2 separate regions of the Homo sapiens genome follow, and region 2 is linked to region 1. A link means that fine-mapping ties the variant in region 1 to the expression of a gene that starts in the linked region. Tissue or cell type: whole blood. Region 1 holds a variant in brackets; the other region holds the start of a gene. All regions are shown on one strand. Distances are from middle to middle.

Region 1 (8,187 bases):
ACCAGTTTGTATAGAAAATAATTTACATATGTCTGTTTTTTCTCCAGAGTATTGTTTCTTCAAAGAACTTATTGGGAAATTTAAATAAATAAAGAGGTGAAAGCCAAAGTATTCTGCGGAAAATGAATGTGTCCCTGGGAGACAGGGGTGAGGACTGGAGGGCAGGAAGGACCTTGAGTTCCAGCACCAATCTCACAGCCTCAGCACCCCGTTTAAGGAGCTTCTCAGAATCTCTTCAAAAACCTCCGATTCAAATTCAGATGACAGCTCAAATGAAAACACACAGATTCATAAGTAGCCAAGAGGGAAAAAGTTATTTAAATATCACTTAACTGAGAGAAGAATCAAACTAAACTGAAAACTGGTCAGATTATTAGAGCTCTGAAATTAACCCTTCCATCCCAAACTAAAGTATACAGGCAAAAACACTAAAAGAGAGAAGGTGATCTATTCCCTAAACACTTGCTCAACAAACACTTACTTGGACAAGTATAGAAAACAGGGAAATTTATGTCTTGAAAAATGATCTGTCATGTAATTTTCTCACTCCACCTTGCAAACCTGAATTCATTATTCAAATTAGAAAGTCATATATCCATTATTTTTGCTATCCAGATAGATATATTTTGTTTTTCCAAGACAAGCAAAACTGTTTATTATACAATTAATCTTTCACTACCCTTTCAATGTAATGAGATACAACTTTTCTGCACAAACTTCAAAGTCATATAAATGAAGTTAACACAGGTGGGTTTTTTTTTTTTTTTTCAGTTACTAAGTTAAAACTCTCAGTAGGAAAGGTAGAGCATTCAACATCTTTCTCTTTGTAGTCCAGAAAGGTTAAGCTAAAAATCAAAATACTGACAGTACTCAGTGATCCATGCCTGCCAAGGATATCTCTCCCTAATTTTGAATACTCTTCCCTATTTACCAGATTAGTTGTTAGAAATCATAAACTAGAAAACCACATAATAGATAAGGTTCCTTTCTAGAGCTCTTATAAGTACAATCTTGTTTCCATGGTTATGAAAAGAACAAAAAAGTTTTTAATGAAAAGAAAATTTATAATTGAAAAATATAATAATTTTTTAGAAATCAATAGGCTATTTTAAAATGACGTTTTTTAAAAATCATAGAATAAAAATGTCTTGAAATATTAAAAAAAGGCATTGCATCATTAAACTCTCTAGTAATTTGAGAATTACAGAGTATTTCCAAAATTAAGATAACGAGATTTACTCATATAAAGTTACAAATCAGTAACTATCAATATACCATACATAATACAATATAAAATATACACAATACTAAAACGAATTCAAACTCTTATAGTTCAAAAATACTTTATAAATTTCAGTCCCTCAGAGATCTTGTGAATATCAACTATAAAATATAGTATTATAAATACAATAAAATTATTTCAATTATTTAAAGTTTCTGGCTTGGTATATAAAGCATCAGATTCTGTATGAAGCAAATAAAATCACTCCTAACTAGCGTACTTCACAGAATACAAATGAAGAAAAGTTTTAACAGTAAACTGTTCATAGTATAGCTTATCAAGCACCTACTATTTGCAAAACACTATAAAATTTGTACCTACTATTTCACTCAAAAAATGAAATCAGATCCTCATTTTCGTAAGCATGAAACTTAAATCCAGGTAGAAATAATATCATGGATACAAAAAAAAGTTTTTTCTTTCCTTCACCAAGTCTATCCAATGATTTCAAAACCAGAATGAGTCACATATCTGACTAAAAATGAAGAAACAGTATGTTTTTCATTTACATAACCCATATGTCCTCTTATTTTTTTCAGGAACAGTGATGGATTGGTTATAATCTTATACATCCTATAAGCAGAGGGTTCTATAGACAGGAAATACAGTGAAGTTATATGGCCCTGCAAAAAAATCATGATGCTACATGGTAAAGTCTAGAACTGGGAATTAGGAGATCATCTCTGACACTAAATAGCTCTATGACCTCAGAGGAAAACCACAACCTTTCCTGGCCCTCTAACATTTATTGTGCTTTGGGGTAAATTATTAGAGTTCTCTAGATCTATTTCCACATCTGAAAACTTTTGGAACTAGACTAGCATCCAACAGCATTTGGATGGGTGGTTCTTCAACTGTTAAATGCCGATTCCTAACGTCACCTCAATGATTCAGAATGTCCACGCTGAAACCTAGGAAGTTAAATGTTCACCAAGTTCACAGTTGACTGAAATACATAGGTGGTCCTCAGCCACAGTTGAAAAACACTAATTGGTTGATCTCTAATCCCTCTAAGAGTGTGAAAAGATGATATAATTCATTTCAGCACCAAGCTTTTAGGAATTCAGAATCTAGCACAGTGTGTAAGGCACAGTAGATGTTAAACAATTATTTGCAGAAAGAAAGGAAGGGAAAGAGGAGGGGAAAAAAAGAAAGAATAGAGAAAGAGGGGGAAGGAAGGCGGCTAACTAACTGGTCATATTTTTGGCTAAGAAACATACAAAACAGTAGTAAAATTACACTTGAATAACATACACAACACACATCAATAGCTGGAAAGCAAAGACCTTAGTATCTATAACATTTTGCATATAACATGAATTCTTGTCATCCTCTTCTCAAGTCAAACTGCAAATTGCTAAGGAGGAAAAGGAAGAAAACAGAACATGGATGCCAAAAGAATTCTAATGGAAAATAACTGGATGACTAAAACTTAGTGACTGCTTTCCCCAAGTAGAAGAGAACACAGAATTTTAAGGACAGGGACTTGGAAATGGAACTGAAGTTTGAAACTACTTGTTACTCATAAGTGCAAATTTCATTTGGGATAATATATAATCCAGAAATACTGTTGGCAATATTAACTTTTGTCCATTTTTATATCTGCATTTTCCCATTCACTTACATTATAATTTTTGAGATGTTTTATCTTCACTTCTGATGATCTTCAAATGTCAATGGCTCTTAACACATTAACTGTAAATAAACACAAAGGAACTTAGGGGAATTCAGAAATTTAAGGAACCCTAAAATATTCTAAATCATTGTGCAAAGCCTGCAGGGCAGGGAGTGGTGGGGAGGAGGCTTTGGCAATTACTTGCTTCATACTTTACATGATCTTCAAAATGTAAAACTGTTCTTTTGAATGAAATGATACTACCGATACTACCCTCTTAATCATCAGGTAATGAATGAAATGATACTATCCTCTTAATCTCAGGCAAAGAAAAAAAAACATCCTATTTTCTGTCAGAAGGCAAACAAAATTCAAAGGTAAAATTCTCTCCAAATACAAACTCTCACTTGGTGAATGTATACTGTATCTTTATCCTTCTCCAGCAAAATAGCAGGTCAAGGAAACTCATGTCCTTATCACTACCACCCAATCAACCTGCCCTGGGACTGCCCTCTAACTACAAAGCTTTGGTCTGCACCTGGGGCACTAGATCTTCAGGCATGTGTGTTCTTTAGAGCACACAGACCCTGAAGTCAAATGGACTTGAATTCACATGTCAAGGTACCCTCTCTAATCTTCCGTTTTCTTCTCTGTAAAATGGAAACATTAACACTCTCTACTTTATACAGTTATGAGGATTATATGAGAAAATGCATAGAAGAAATGTAGCACCATGCCCAGCATAGTAAGCATGCAATAAATGTTGTGCTATTTATATTATTGTTGTGTTTAATATTAACATTATTATTACTATAACTGTCTACCACTAGGAAAGCAAGGCTTGTTTTCAGTGTTGCTATTTTGAGGCAATGCCTTTGGTTATGATAAAAGAATGTTGTTATCTAATATTGGTAACAGAGAACAGAGAACAAAATTTTATTTTTGAACTTTGCTGGGCTTCTTGGCTCGCTCAAGAATATTAAGGCTTGTAATCACCAGCCCATCATCAGCCAGTTATTTTCCCTTTTGCTAATGCATAACCTCCAGACAAGGCCTCCTCCCTACCTCAGCAACTGCTCATTTGCTGCTATCAGTAAAAGCAATTCTGCCGAGAAGAGAAATGGATATGTTTCTGACTTAATGTCTATTAAATCCTCAGAGCCTGATGAATAAATGTTTTATCAATCCAAAGGAGACTTATATACATATGCTCTTCTATTCACATCCAAATTATAAACTCCTTATGTTTGAAATTATATGCTTAAAATATTAATATTTAAGTTAGGTGACAAAAGAATATATAAGACACAGATGTCTCCGCATTTTTAATAAAATGTTTAGGTCAAAGATATAAAAACAAACTGAATATTGGCAAAAGCATTCATAAATTAAAATGGTCAGCTTTATTTATTTCCCTTATGGAAACCACATCCTTACAACTGAAATGAGAGAAAATACCTAAGTAGAACCCGATGCAACATTCTAGAAGAGGATAAAATACATGGATACATGGCTTGGAAATGGATGTCAAATTGGAAGTAAGCAGAGTAGGCCATCAACTTCATTACCACTACTACTTTACCGTGCAATTCCTTGAGCTCTTCAAGTGAAATACAATATAGCACGGCAATCCATTCTTCCTTTGATTTCTGTTTCCCCATCAC[T/A]TAATGATCTTGTCAATATTAAATGTACCACTTTCATTTTATGGTTCCAGATTAGGATTATAAAAATCTGACCCAAGACAAGACACAAAAAAATAGAAAGCTAAACTCAAGAGTTCAGAGTGCTCCAAGATACAATTCTCTTTTTTGGTCTGCAGCAATGTATTACCTCCTCTCTTTCAGTGTGTTTTCTATTTTGGTCATCGCATTTGCAGCTCTAAGGGTGTCTCTGGCATAAGTGAAATATTGCAGACTTTAGGTGGAAAATGTCTTTCTTTTAAATGATTCATCTGTACCCAAGGGGAAAAGCTGCTATGACTCCAATACCCATTCTCTCCTATTCCTCAGTGACAGAACCTCCAAATTTAGCTCAGCACAAAGGCCTCACAGATGAGACTGCCTATCCCAGCCTCTTGTTTACCTACGTATGGCCATGGGACCATCCATGTTTTAGCCAACTGGATGTAAGTTAAAAAAAATGACATGTGACTGCCAAAAAAGTATCCTTCAAAGAGAGAGAGTATGCTCCTCTTCTTCCCTTCCTCCTGAAGATATAATAGCTGGAGTTCCAACAATAATTTTGGTTCATGAGGTAACCCTGGAATGTAAGACAATCTGGGTCCTTGATACTTCAGATCCACCATATTAGATCTGTATTGACTATCTCCAGGCTTTCATGTGGAAAAAAATTTAGCATCTCCTATATTAAGCCACTGTCAGTTTGTATTTTGTTATGTGCTGCTAAACCTAAAGTAGAACTTAAAAAAAAAAAAGAATTTTCCAAATAACAGTGTTTAAATTTTTAATTAAAATATATTTTACAGGTAATTTTTAATATATTTAATACACAGCATTTGCTCTTATTTACTCTAGACTAAAAATATTTAAAGAGCCCAAGAGTTATTCACACAAAGTAAGAGTCTTTGAAAGAATAAATATTCACCAGTGATTATGGCCATAGGTCCTATGTACTTGGGGAAGGGAAGAATTATGAAGCTTGCTTATTAACAGTTTGTATTAATGACAACATTGGTACCTATATAGAAACATATTAGGAGGGACAGGCACAATTAGCTTTGCATAATAAAGCTACAGGAAAGGGAACTGAAGTTATTATTTTCAAGAAGGCATCTTCCCTAGTCCTTTTTATTTTAATAATCTAGTACCAACTTTATCTTTTTATACAGTTCCATTTTTAATTTGACTTCCTGTGGAAAGCAGGTTTTTAAAATCACTCCCTATCCTTGACTATCACCTCTAATAGTGTTTAATTATTATCTACCGATTTAACTAAATCAAACAGTAGACACAAAGATAGCAAGTACTTTACATATTCAAAACCATCTTCCTTACAAAGGAAAAATATTCCACACTAAAATCTGGAGAATTTCCATTACTCAAATCCTGAATCGCACGCAATCTTTGGCTCTGATGATTTTGAATACAATAGCATTAACTTGGCAGCTTTCCAAAATAAACTTACTGCTTTCTGGTCATCTGTATCCAGGTTATCTCCTTCCCCTGGGCATAATCCAAACTTTACAGGTTCAGGTGATGGCCTCCTGGAATTACTTGTTCATAATACAGTTGACCCTTGAACAACACAGGAGTTGGGGTGCTGACCTTCAACGCAGCTGAAAATCCGCATATAATTTTGACTCCCCAAACTACTCCCCAGACTTAACTATTAATAGACTACTGTTGACTGGAAGCTTTACGGATAACATAAACAGCCCATCAAAACATATTTCAGGCTGCACGCCAATATACTGAACTCTAACAATGAAAAAAAATGTTATTAAGACAATCACAAAGAAAAGAAAATACATTTACTACCCATTAAGTGGAAGTGGGTCATCATAAAGTTTGTTACCCTCATCATGTTGCACATGCTGAGGAGGAAAAGGAGGGGTTGGTCTTGCTGTGTCAGGGGTGGCAGAAGCAGAAGAAAATCCACATAAAAGTGGATCTGAACAGTTCACACCCATGTGGTTCGAGGGTCAACTGTACTTTTTTTAAAAATGCTTGTTTCCACTAATCTTTCTCACTAAGAATCTATTTTTAAGAAAAAGCCTAAAACGCATATTCTTGTTTTATGTTACTCAAAGAAAAATGCCTTAGGAAATTTCCTAGAAATCAAATCTAATAAATCGACAAGAGATGACTTTTACCTTTTACTACTTTAGTCAACATTTTTACAAAAATGCTCTCAAGTAATAGTTTTACAGTACTTCTAACATAGACCTTAACTTAGTTTTAACTAATGTTGATTGCATTACAAAAGGCACCAATTAGCAAAAGATCCAAGGCAGTGGTTCTCAAACTTCAGCATCCATCGGGATCACCTGGAAAGCTTGCTAAAACACCAACAGCTGGGCTCCACCCCTAAAATGTTAATTCAGTTAGGTCCAAGGTAGGGCCCAAGAATTTGCATTTTTAACAAATCCCAAAGAGATACTGATGCTACTGGCCTGGAGACCAAACTTTGAGAACTACTGGTCTACACTAATAGGAAATTATTGATAATAGCATAAAAAGGAAAAATACAGATATATACGGGACCCAGTCTCAGGTTCACTATCAACTTGCATTCTTCAAATATGTGCTTTCTGAAAAGCTACATAATTACTATGTCAGACCAATATTGTTTCTTATCTAAGAGAACTTAGATCTTTGAGGGTTTTTAAGTAATGAAATCCAAATAAGTAATTTTTAGTCTAATATGTTCAATGTTTGATACAAGGTACTACTAATAATGCCAAGGTTGTAGGTTCAATCTGGTAGCTTTACTCTGTTTTACAGCTATAATTTCTACCTCTAATCTTGCCAGCTGTCTCAGCAGACATGCCAAGAGTGACAAAGGGAATGGGTAAAAATGTGTGATTGTACACAAATCCATCACCACTACTAGAAAAACAACATAAAAGCATATTTCCTACCAACATATCACTTTTTTTTCTTGAGACGGGGTCTCACTGTCTTGCCCAGGCCAGAATACAGTGGCACTATCACAACCCACTGCAGCCTCAACGTTCCCAGGCTCAGGTGATCCTCTCACACCAGCCTCCCAAGTATCTGGGACTACAGGCATGCACTACCATGCCCAGCTAACTTTTTATTTTTTGCAGAGACAGTGTTCTGCCATGTGACCCTGGCTGGTCTGGAATTTCTGGACTCAAGCAATCCCAAACTGTTCAGCCTCCTAAACTGCTAGGATTACAGGCGTTAGCTACTGCACCTGGCCTCCAACACGTCACTCTTAAGTGACCTTGAGGCTAAAACTAAAGATGAGACCTTGCAACAAAATGTGTTTTAGAAATCTAGGAAACTCCTCTACTTCTTCAGGCTATAAGTATAATCAAAATCCATGGAAACAGAAATCTAGGAATTCCTGTTTTCAAATGATGATAATTTTAAGGCAGGCATGCAATTTATAAATGCAATTAGTTGAGAACTACTTTGAGTATGTGTACCCCCCCTTTGATTTTTTTAATGGAAGTTAAATGTAAATATAAGATGCTCATCAATGCTAATGAAATTATATACTACAAATTGATAAAACCAAATAATCTGGGATAAACAAGTATGGTACCCAGAATAACTAAAGCCTGAGGTTATATGAAGGATGA
Region 2 (8,187 bases), 130 kb before region 1:
TTAGTCTCCTGTTATACCTAATTTAAAAACTACACTTTATCATAGGCACGTATGTACAGGAGAAAACACAGTAAGGTTCGTTACTATCCCCAGTTTCAGGCATCCACTGGTCTTAGAAGGTATCTCCCATGGATAAGGTGGGTACTACCGTATTCACTGTTTTGTGGGAACTTTAAAGAACTACCACAAATAATGAGAATCAATCGTACCTGTGTCAAAGAAGAGACTTTCCAGAAGTACTGACTAAACCTCTAAAAATAAAACCAAGTTTTTATCTTCTGTTTGTTCACATGTATTCCATCCATAGTATTCCATGATGTTTATGTACCAGACATGCTGGAGGGACATGTCTTATAATGGGATATGTACATTGCTGTGGGGAGACCTGAGGAAGCCCCTCAAAGAGGTAGTCATTCTCCAAATCAACTAAAATTGATAGGCAACAGGAGGCCTGTGTGAATGCTGATCGGCAAAGGAATTATCACATGAACACAAATACTTATTACATTAAGTCACTGCAGGTAGACAAAAACAAACAACAGTTTCAAATATGAGCCTTTATCAAAAGGCACAAGAGTAACTGAATTTTATGTGCCAATGTGCCATCAGGTATTTTTTTCACACCAGTGATGTCAAGTAACTAGCAAAAGGGTAAAGTAAAAGGAGATATTTAAGCAATTAGTTAAATCTCCTGAACCAAATGTGGGATAGCCAACTAGTACAGAATAGCCACCATAGAATATTTTTTAAAGTATAGTACATGAATCTATGTATCATGCAAACAAAGAGAAAACTCACTATTCCTGCACTTTCATCTAACTACTTGCTTTCATGGACCTAAAGAATAGATCCAGTCTCAGTAGTGTATTAATTATAATTTCCAACTTGTTTGGCATTTTATTTAATTTCCAGAAGATGTCATAACATAAATAAAGCATACCTTTCTTCTTCCTTCCTCCTTCCGATCAAAAGCACATTGCTGTTTGCACTGTTCACAGGTCTGAGGTGGTCCATACTTTTTTTCTGAATTTGTGCAACGCTGACACTTGGTACCAATAAATGCTGCAATTATGTTACAGTACTGACAAGGCTTGGGCTGAAAAACATACACATTTTGAGACTTTTAAAAACATTAAATATTTGCGGCATAGCATATACCCAGTGTTGTAGACATATTTCTGGAATTAAGAAAACTCAGGTAAAAAATTTGTTTTCTGTCAAGTTTGTTGCCCTGTCACATGCAATAACTTTTATACCATATTTCTATGCATTCAACTAGTATTTATTTCTAGTCATGTAACTATTACTCTAAGATCGTGAGAAATAGATTTGTGATTTGCATAGTCTGTTAGATAATACAAAAACTACACATAAAAAAGGTTTTAAAGAACGAAAATAAAGGTACATATGTAGAGAAGTCTCATGAATCAAGAATTTGAGGAAACGTCCTTCTACTAATATCCTAGTTACCTTAATGACCATATCATTTATTTAGAAAATGTTAACTTTTCATCACATATAGGTACAAATCATATAAGGAATATATACTGTGAGTTTTCAACTTTGAAAAAATGAGAACAAGCATATTCAACATAAACTATAAAAACATACCTTGATTTTCTTTGATATTCAAAAGATGATTCAGGGCAGTTTAGAGCGTTAAAGTTAGCATTTTTGACCAATAATAAATAATATTGGTATAATATACCTATAATGATTGTAGTATACATATAAGACAATTTGTACTAGGATTGGGTCATGACTTCTGTGAATAAATATCTTTAATTGCGCTGTTTTATAAAAATAGTTCTGAGGAGGCTGTTCTGAAGTGGGCTAAAGTCTGATGATGCAAACTTTATGGATAAGTTCTCCATAACCAAGAATTTGCTATATTTGAATCTCTAAAGAACAGCTTCACAAATTTCACACTGGATTCAATACATGTAAAACAGGTATATAATTTGACTGTTTTTAAATGTTATCACCTTTCCATCAAAGTATCTATAGAAAATGTCTTTCATAAAATATGGTATGTTGAAATATCTAAGAGCATAGCAGTAGTTTTTTTTTTTCGAGACGCAGTCTCGCTCTGTCCCCCAGGCTGGAGTGCAGTGGCAGGATCTCAGCTCACTGCAAACTCCGCCTCCTGAGTTCACGCCATTCTCCTGCCTCAGCCTCTGGAGTAGCTGGGACTACAGGCGCCCACCACCATACCCGGCTCATTTTTTTTTTGTTGTATTTTTAGTAGACATGGGGTTTCACCGTGTTAGCCAGGATGGTCTCCATCTCCTGACCTTGTGATCCGCCCTCCTCGGCCTCCCAAAGTGCTGGGATTACAGGCGTGAGCCACTGTGCCCAGCCAGCAGTACATATTTTTTTAAAAGGTCCAGCTTTATGAAAAATATTAACTGGTAACAATGACATGAAAACATAAGACATACTTACCGTCCCAAATTGCTTCACATTTTGAGCACACTTCTTACAAATTGTGTTAGTTTTGCTGAAAAATAAATTGTATATAGATCATGTTTATGTAGCTTTCTAAAGTAATTAGCACAATGTCAAAATAAAATGAGTCAAAGATTTGTTGTACTTAAAACTTTAATAAGGACCACGGATTTTTTTCAAATATACAAGGATATTTTCAGAGTTGTTTTACCCAAATTAACTTATGACAAATGTTTTTATACATTTTTATTGCATATTACTTTTTGTAAACAAAACATCTTAATGTTTCCTATATAGCTCCAAAATCTTCACACTTGACACTATTACTGCACAGCATTACAATACCAGTGCCTACCTAACCTTCCACTTGGCTACTGTCCAACATTATAATGCCCACACCTATTTATGAAGAAATTATTTGTTCTTTTCTGAGGCTACTTTCTGTATATACTCTCAGAGTGGAACTGTTAAAAATGTTACGTACTACTCCTCTTCTATGTAACAAATTATTAGATTTTCACCTTGGAAGGCAGTTGGTAACACTACAGACCTTTCCTCAGATCCATTAAGGCTTTACCATTTTTTTTTAGTTTAACATAACTGTTTACATTTGCATTTTCATTAGCAAGGCTGTACATTTTCCATGTAGTATTATTCCTTCTCTCATATAAAGTCTAACTGTAAATTAACCACCACTGGTTTTTTTCGCAACATTCTCTCTCCCACCATGTATAAAAGGTTTACAACTTAAAATTTCTGGGGCTAAACCATTTTTTAAAAATACTTTCATAAAAACATGGGATTACAACCCCCAAGTATTCCATAAAGACAACACTTGTCTTTAACAGTCAAAAACTATTCAGTATACAAACCTCTCTTGTTGAAATTCTGATCTGCAGTAAGTACATTTTACAATAGGATGTGCAATCCGACATTCCTGTAATAAGACAATACATTAGTCAGTATCTTTCTGAAAGTCCCAAATCTCACTTTTCTGGTAGAAAACTGTTTACCCAACCTAGTGAAAGTCTAAAACATTTATAAAACCTGGCCCCAACGTAAAGAACTGGATGCTTTATCATATAAGTGGCCAATCACAATATAATTCCTTAGGGAAGGCACAGGTGTCTTTGTCTTTAGTAGACGTGGGGGTATATTACAGACAAATTAAGAAAGCTGTCAGGGCCTATTTCAAGGATTGGTTAAATGTGAAACTACTTATTATTTTGCACCGTTGCTCACAGACAGCATCCAGGCTTTAATGGGATGGGAGGAGCTCCAAATCAGAGCATTCTGTTCCCAAACCAGTCGCTTCGCTTTCCTGGACAGGGAAGAAGGATGCCATCAGCTTTGCGGCTTCGGGTTCCTAGCAAGAAAGTGCAAAAACCGTCCCCTGCCTCCTGGTGGAAGAAGAGGACAGACCAGGCAGAAAACCGAGATGAAAACATCTCCACCCCTGGGTCTCTGCGGCATAGACAGGTGGCTGCCTCACTCAACCCCACTCCTGAGACCCCCAGACGCTGACGGGGCCCGGCACCCTCCTGGGCCGCCTGGAAAAGGGCACGATTCTGCCTCCCTTTCAGGGTCCGTTCCCAGCTAATGTTCAAGCCCCCAGAAAAAGGGGTCCCCGAGTGGGGAGGCGAGGGCTCCAGACTCCCAAACCCCTGAGGCGCCGGCGAAGAGGGGCTGCAGTGCAGCGGCTACCCGGCCCCCTCCGGCTACGGCCGAGGACACCCATCCCGCCCGCCTCCCGGAGCCCACGGACCTTGCAGAGCTGCTGGCCCTGGGAGAGCTCCTCGAAAGGATAACGCTGGGTACACTTGGTGCAGGCGTACAGGGCCGAGGCCGCCATCCTGCTCCTCAGTCTCCTCCTCCGCCGCCGCCCGCTCCGAGGCGGGGCCCTACGGAGAACCCGAGAGCCGCCGCCGCCCGGGCCGCGGGCTCCTCCTCCTCCCCCTCCCCCTGCCTCGCGCCCACCAGGGCCTCGCCGCGAGAGCCCAGGGCCCCGCGGACGACGCCACCGTCTCCCTCCGCCTCCACTTCCGCCCCAGCCCACCCAGTGACGCCGTGCCAGCCGCTCCCGCTTAGGCCCCGATAGCGGCGGAGGGAGACGAAGCGGGTAGGGGGTTGCTGTTTAGCTGTGCGGCCGTGGATCCGCTTCCTTCTCGGCCTCCCTTTCCCATCCCTGATTGGCTGCGAAGGCTATCGCGTCATTCGATGGCTCCTCCCAACTCCCAACTTCCGCGACGCAGGAAGCGCCCACAAAGGGAGGATGTCGCCGGCCAATGACATCCCGGAGCTCTCAGCGCGCGAAATCCGCTTTGAACCTGCCCCGCCCAAAGGTCTGCGGTCGCGGCTATTTCTAACAGCCAGTCCCAGGTTTGGCTGAGAGCGCCCCAATCCAATTGAGCAAATGTTCGCGAAAGGCTCGTTCTCTGCCGCAACTTTTTTTCCCTTGCTTTCTATTGGACTAAATCGTTAAGTCCCTCCTAATCCTATTTGTTATTGGCCAAAAGGTAAATACTTCACCTGGAGAGGCGTCCCCGAGGCAAATTCACGCTCTCTCCGGCGTTTAATCCGAGGGAACTCGTGGAGTGCTTTAACTTCGCCTTCGCTTTTGTTTTATCTCCATTACTCCCTTCAGTTGCCACTGGCGACACCACTACTCGCCCACGCTTCTTACTGGAGGAGGCCCGACCCTCCGTAGAATCCCCGCAGAGCCGGCCTGTAACCCCGGCGTTGTCTGCCCCAGCGGGCCCCGTTACGCGCTACCTTGTGACGTCACCAGGGAAGAGGCGGATTCTCTCCTACTACAGAAAGACGTCTGCTGTTTTGATTGGCTAGGAAAGACGTCCGTTAGGACGTGTTGCCCTTTCTGTGTAAGCTGTGAGCGTAGGCGGCCCTGAGGGGGTGTGTTGCAGGGGTTTCCAAGCCCAGCACCAGCACCCTTGCCCTTTTCCATCAGGGGTTCAGCCTAGGGTCCCCGCTGGTGGGCGGCTCCCGAGTCTTGGAGAAGAGCACGAGAACCTAGACCGCCCCCGAAGTGCGGAGACCCCCTGGGCAGGCTGAAAGATGGCGGCGGCGTCTGTCTCTGCGGCTTCTGGTTCTCACTTGTCGGTAAGAAGCAGTTGGCGCGAGTGGGCCCCACGTCGGCCCTAAGCGCCTCTTTGAGTTTCCTCACGTTTCAGGGCGCTGTCAGTCCAGCTTCTGACGCAATTCTGGAGGTCGGCGGGAATGCCTAGATTGCCCCGCGCTCCCCAAGCTTCCATTCACTGTGGCTGTGTCGAAGCTGCACCCTCTGGCTCCCAGTGAAACTGGGCTGGCCGCCCCTGTTCCCCAGCCCTTATTCACCTTTTGGCGTAGCAACCAACCCCGGTTGCCTAACATTCCCAAGGGCCGGCTGGGATAACTGCCCACTCCCTGGCCTGCAAAAATGTAGCTCTTTTGGTCACGTGGGTTCAGCGGCCCCTCTAGGAAACTCGCCAGATCAGGTGAGGCGCGCCAGTGTGTTTAAGAGACGTTGCAGAATAGTAGTCCGCCGTCTCTCGAGCGCTTACTAGTCGTTGCTTATGCTGTTTCCTATCCCTGCAGTGCCTCCCACTCCCATCCACATTAACTTCGTTGTGTGATGCTCGTAGCCAGAACGCGCGCTTCCTGTCACCTAGAATTACTGGAACTTCAATGTGGAAATGCCCTTTTGGAGAGGCGACAGGGGGAATTGATTTTAAATATTGTTTTCGCCTCATCAAATGTCACCATCCAGTTTAGTTACTGGTATTCACTGGTATTTCTCAAATTGGAGTGTCGAATGCTTAGGTTTTTGAAAACCGCGGCATTGGAAAGCTTTGATAGGAAGTAAATGTTGGAGCTCTTATTTCTCCAGTTAGCAAATGTTCGATGCCTGGTATACTGTTAGGGTCCAAATGAACAGAATAGAAACCCTGCTTTGAAGGAGAAAAACACTGAAGAGAAACTACACGTAATTAGTGATTACTGCGCAGTATAGTTTAGGAAGTGCTACCGTAGTAGAATAATCTAGAGGGGAGTGATTAACAGTGCTTGGGTAGGCTAGAGAAGGTTTCCTAGAAGGGAAGATGGAGCTAGTTGCGTGTCGAAGGAATTGTGATTGCTTGTCCCAAGAGTAGAGAAAGGAGAAAAAGGCAGTGCGGGAATTTTGGAGTATGTGCTAGAACAGTAGGTGCTTTTAGGAAACTTGAGATAGTTCGGAATGAGAAGAAGTAATACGGAGGTAGAGCTGGATGAGGTGAATTGGAAACGTAGGTAAAAACGTGAAAAAAGAAGGATGGTGAGGGAAGGAACTAGAAGAGTATCAGGGTAAAGTTATTTTCTAGGATCTAGGGGGAAAGAGTTGGAAACGCTAAGAAAGCCTGGTCACCTTGGAGAAGTCAGTTTCAGCTTTTGGAGACTTGTTAGAATTTGTAATAATGGGACTAGAAGTATTACAGTGTTTCAGCCGAATGGGAATTAGAAGTTTGCAGAGAGGTCTGGGGAAGTTAAGGAGAAGTAAGGAAAGCAGCAATTTAAGGTTATTCAGGATTAGGTCAGTAAAAGAAAAAAGTAAAAAACTATTGGAAGTGTCAGCAGATGGATGAGATTTTATAGGAGATGTGATTAAACTTGGGAGAAGAGGGCTTTTCACGGCTCTCAAAAGTTAAGCACTTGGAGACCGAACAAGGAATACTCTTACAAATGTTGAATTGAGTCTGGGTGCGTGGCTCATGCCTGTAATACCAGCTACTAGTGAGGCTGAGGCGGGAGGATCACTGAGGCTGAAGTGAGGTATGATAGTGCCACTGCTCTCCAGCCTGGGCGACAGAGCGACCCTGTCTCCATAAAATAAAATATTAAATAAACGTTTAATTGAGCTGCACTATGCCAAGGACACCTAGGTGAGCATTGGCACTGGGATATAGTCAGCTGTTAATACTTATACGGTACCCTTGACAGAAATACCAAAGACTGTTCATTAGGAAAGCATATTTTTTTTGTGCTAAGCTCAGCTTTAATAGGATTCTAAATATCAAGGGTACACTAAGAATATCTAGGAACCTCCACAAATCAAAGTATAACAACCATAACTCAATCTGCTACATCAAAATGTCTATTTTGGAAGTTACTGTTTCTCAAAACAAAAATGACTAAATTTAGTTGGTTTCTTGGTGCGTAAGAAAACGTCCTGCTTAGATGTCCCATCAGAAATAAGGCTGCCATTTCCAACAGCGTTGGAAAAGCACTTAGCTTATCAAACAGCTGATCTTAACAGTAGGCAACATTTAAAAAAAAAAAAACTTGTTAAAACTATACCATGAACTGAGAACACAACTCGTATTCAGATTTCACGGTTATGAAGATTAACAACTGTTATATTCAACTGTTTTCGACATTGATAAACTCATACGGAGCTAGTTATAAGTACATTGAGATGCTTTACAGGCAAAGATTTTTAACAAGTAGATTCATAAATAACCGTCTTTGGGAAGCAGTGACCATGTAAATCTCAAATGTGAACAGCATGGAAGTAGGGCGATAGGTTTCAGTTAGGTTCTAGGTAACGTTTATTGAGTGATTGCTCTGGAATTGATAAACTTCGACTGGTGGAAAAGGCAGGAAAGCAACTATGATTGGGCATAATGAAATTAATTCCATATGGAGGTATGGGCAGCATTGTGTTGAAATACACAAGAATGTCTTTCATGTCAGCCTTGTAATATTTTCACA

What was found. PIP is the estimated chance that this variant, and not a neighbour inherited with it, causes the effect.
Region 2: it holds the start of FAM76B, and the variant in region 1 is fine-mapped to the expression of FAM76B in whole blood (INTERVAL, PIP above 0.99).

Annotation. Positions count from the first base shown.
Region 1 is chr11:95,911,336-95,919,522 of GRCh38, forward strand. All of the region lies in intron 1 of MTMR2 (myotubularin related protein 2), which reads right to left. Among named protein-coding and RNA genes, the nearest start is that of MTMR2, 8.7 kb to the right of the region's middle. The variant T/A (reference allele first, on the strand shown) is at 4,562.
Region 2 is chr11:95,785,179-95,793,365 of GRCh38, forward strand. FAM76B (family with sequence similarity 76 member B) reads right to left here and starts at 4,604. Exons shown (of 10, transcript NM_144664.5): 1 at 4,214-4,604; 2 at 3,321-3,385; 3 at 2,446-2,500; 4 at 941-1,096. The coding sequence starts at 4,300. CEP57 (centrosomal protein 57) reads left to right here and starts at 5,320. Exons shown (of 11, transcript NM_014679.5): 1 at 5,320-5,565. The coding sequence starts at 5,521. RefSeq lists a silencer at 4,212-4,631 and enhancers at 5,132-5,601, 5,565-6,228.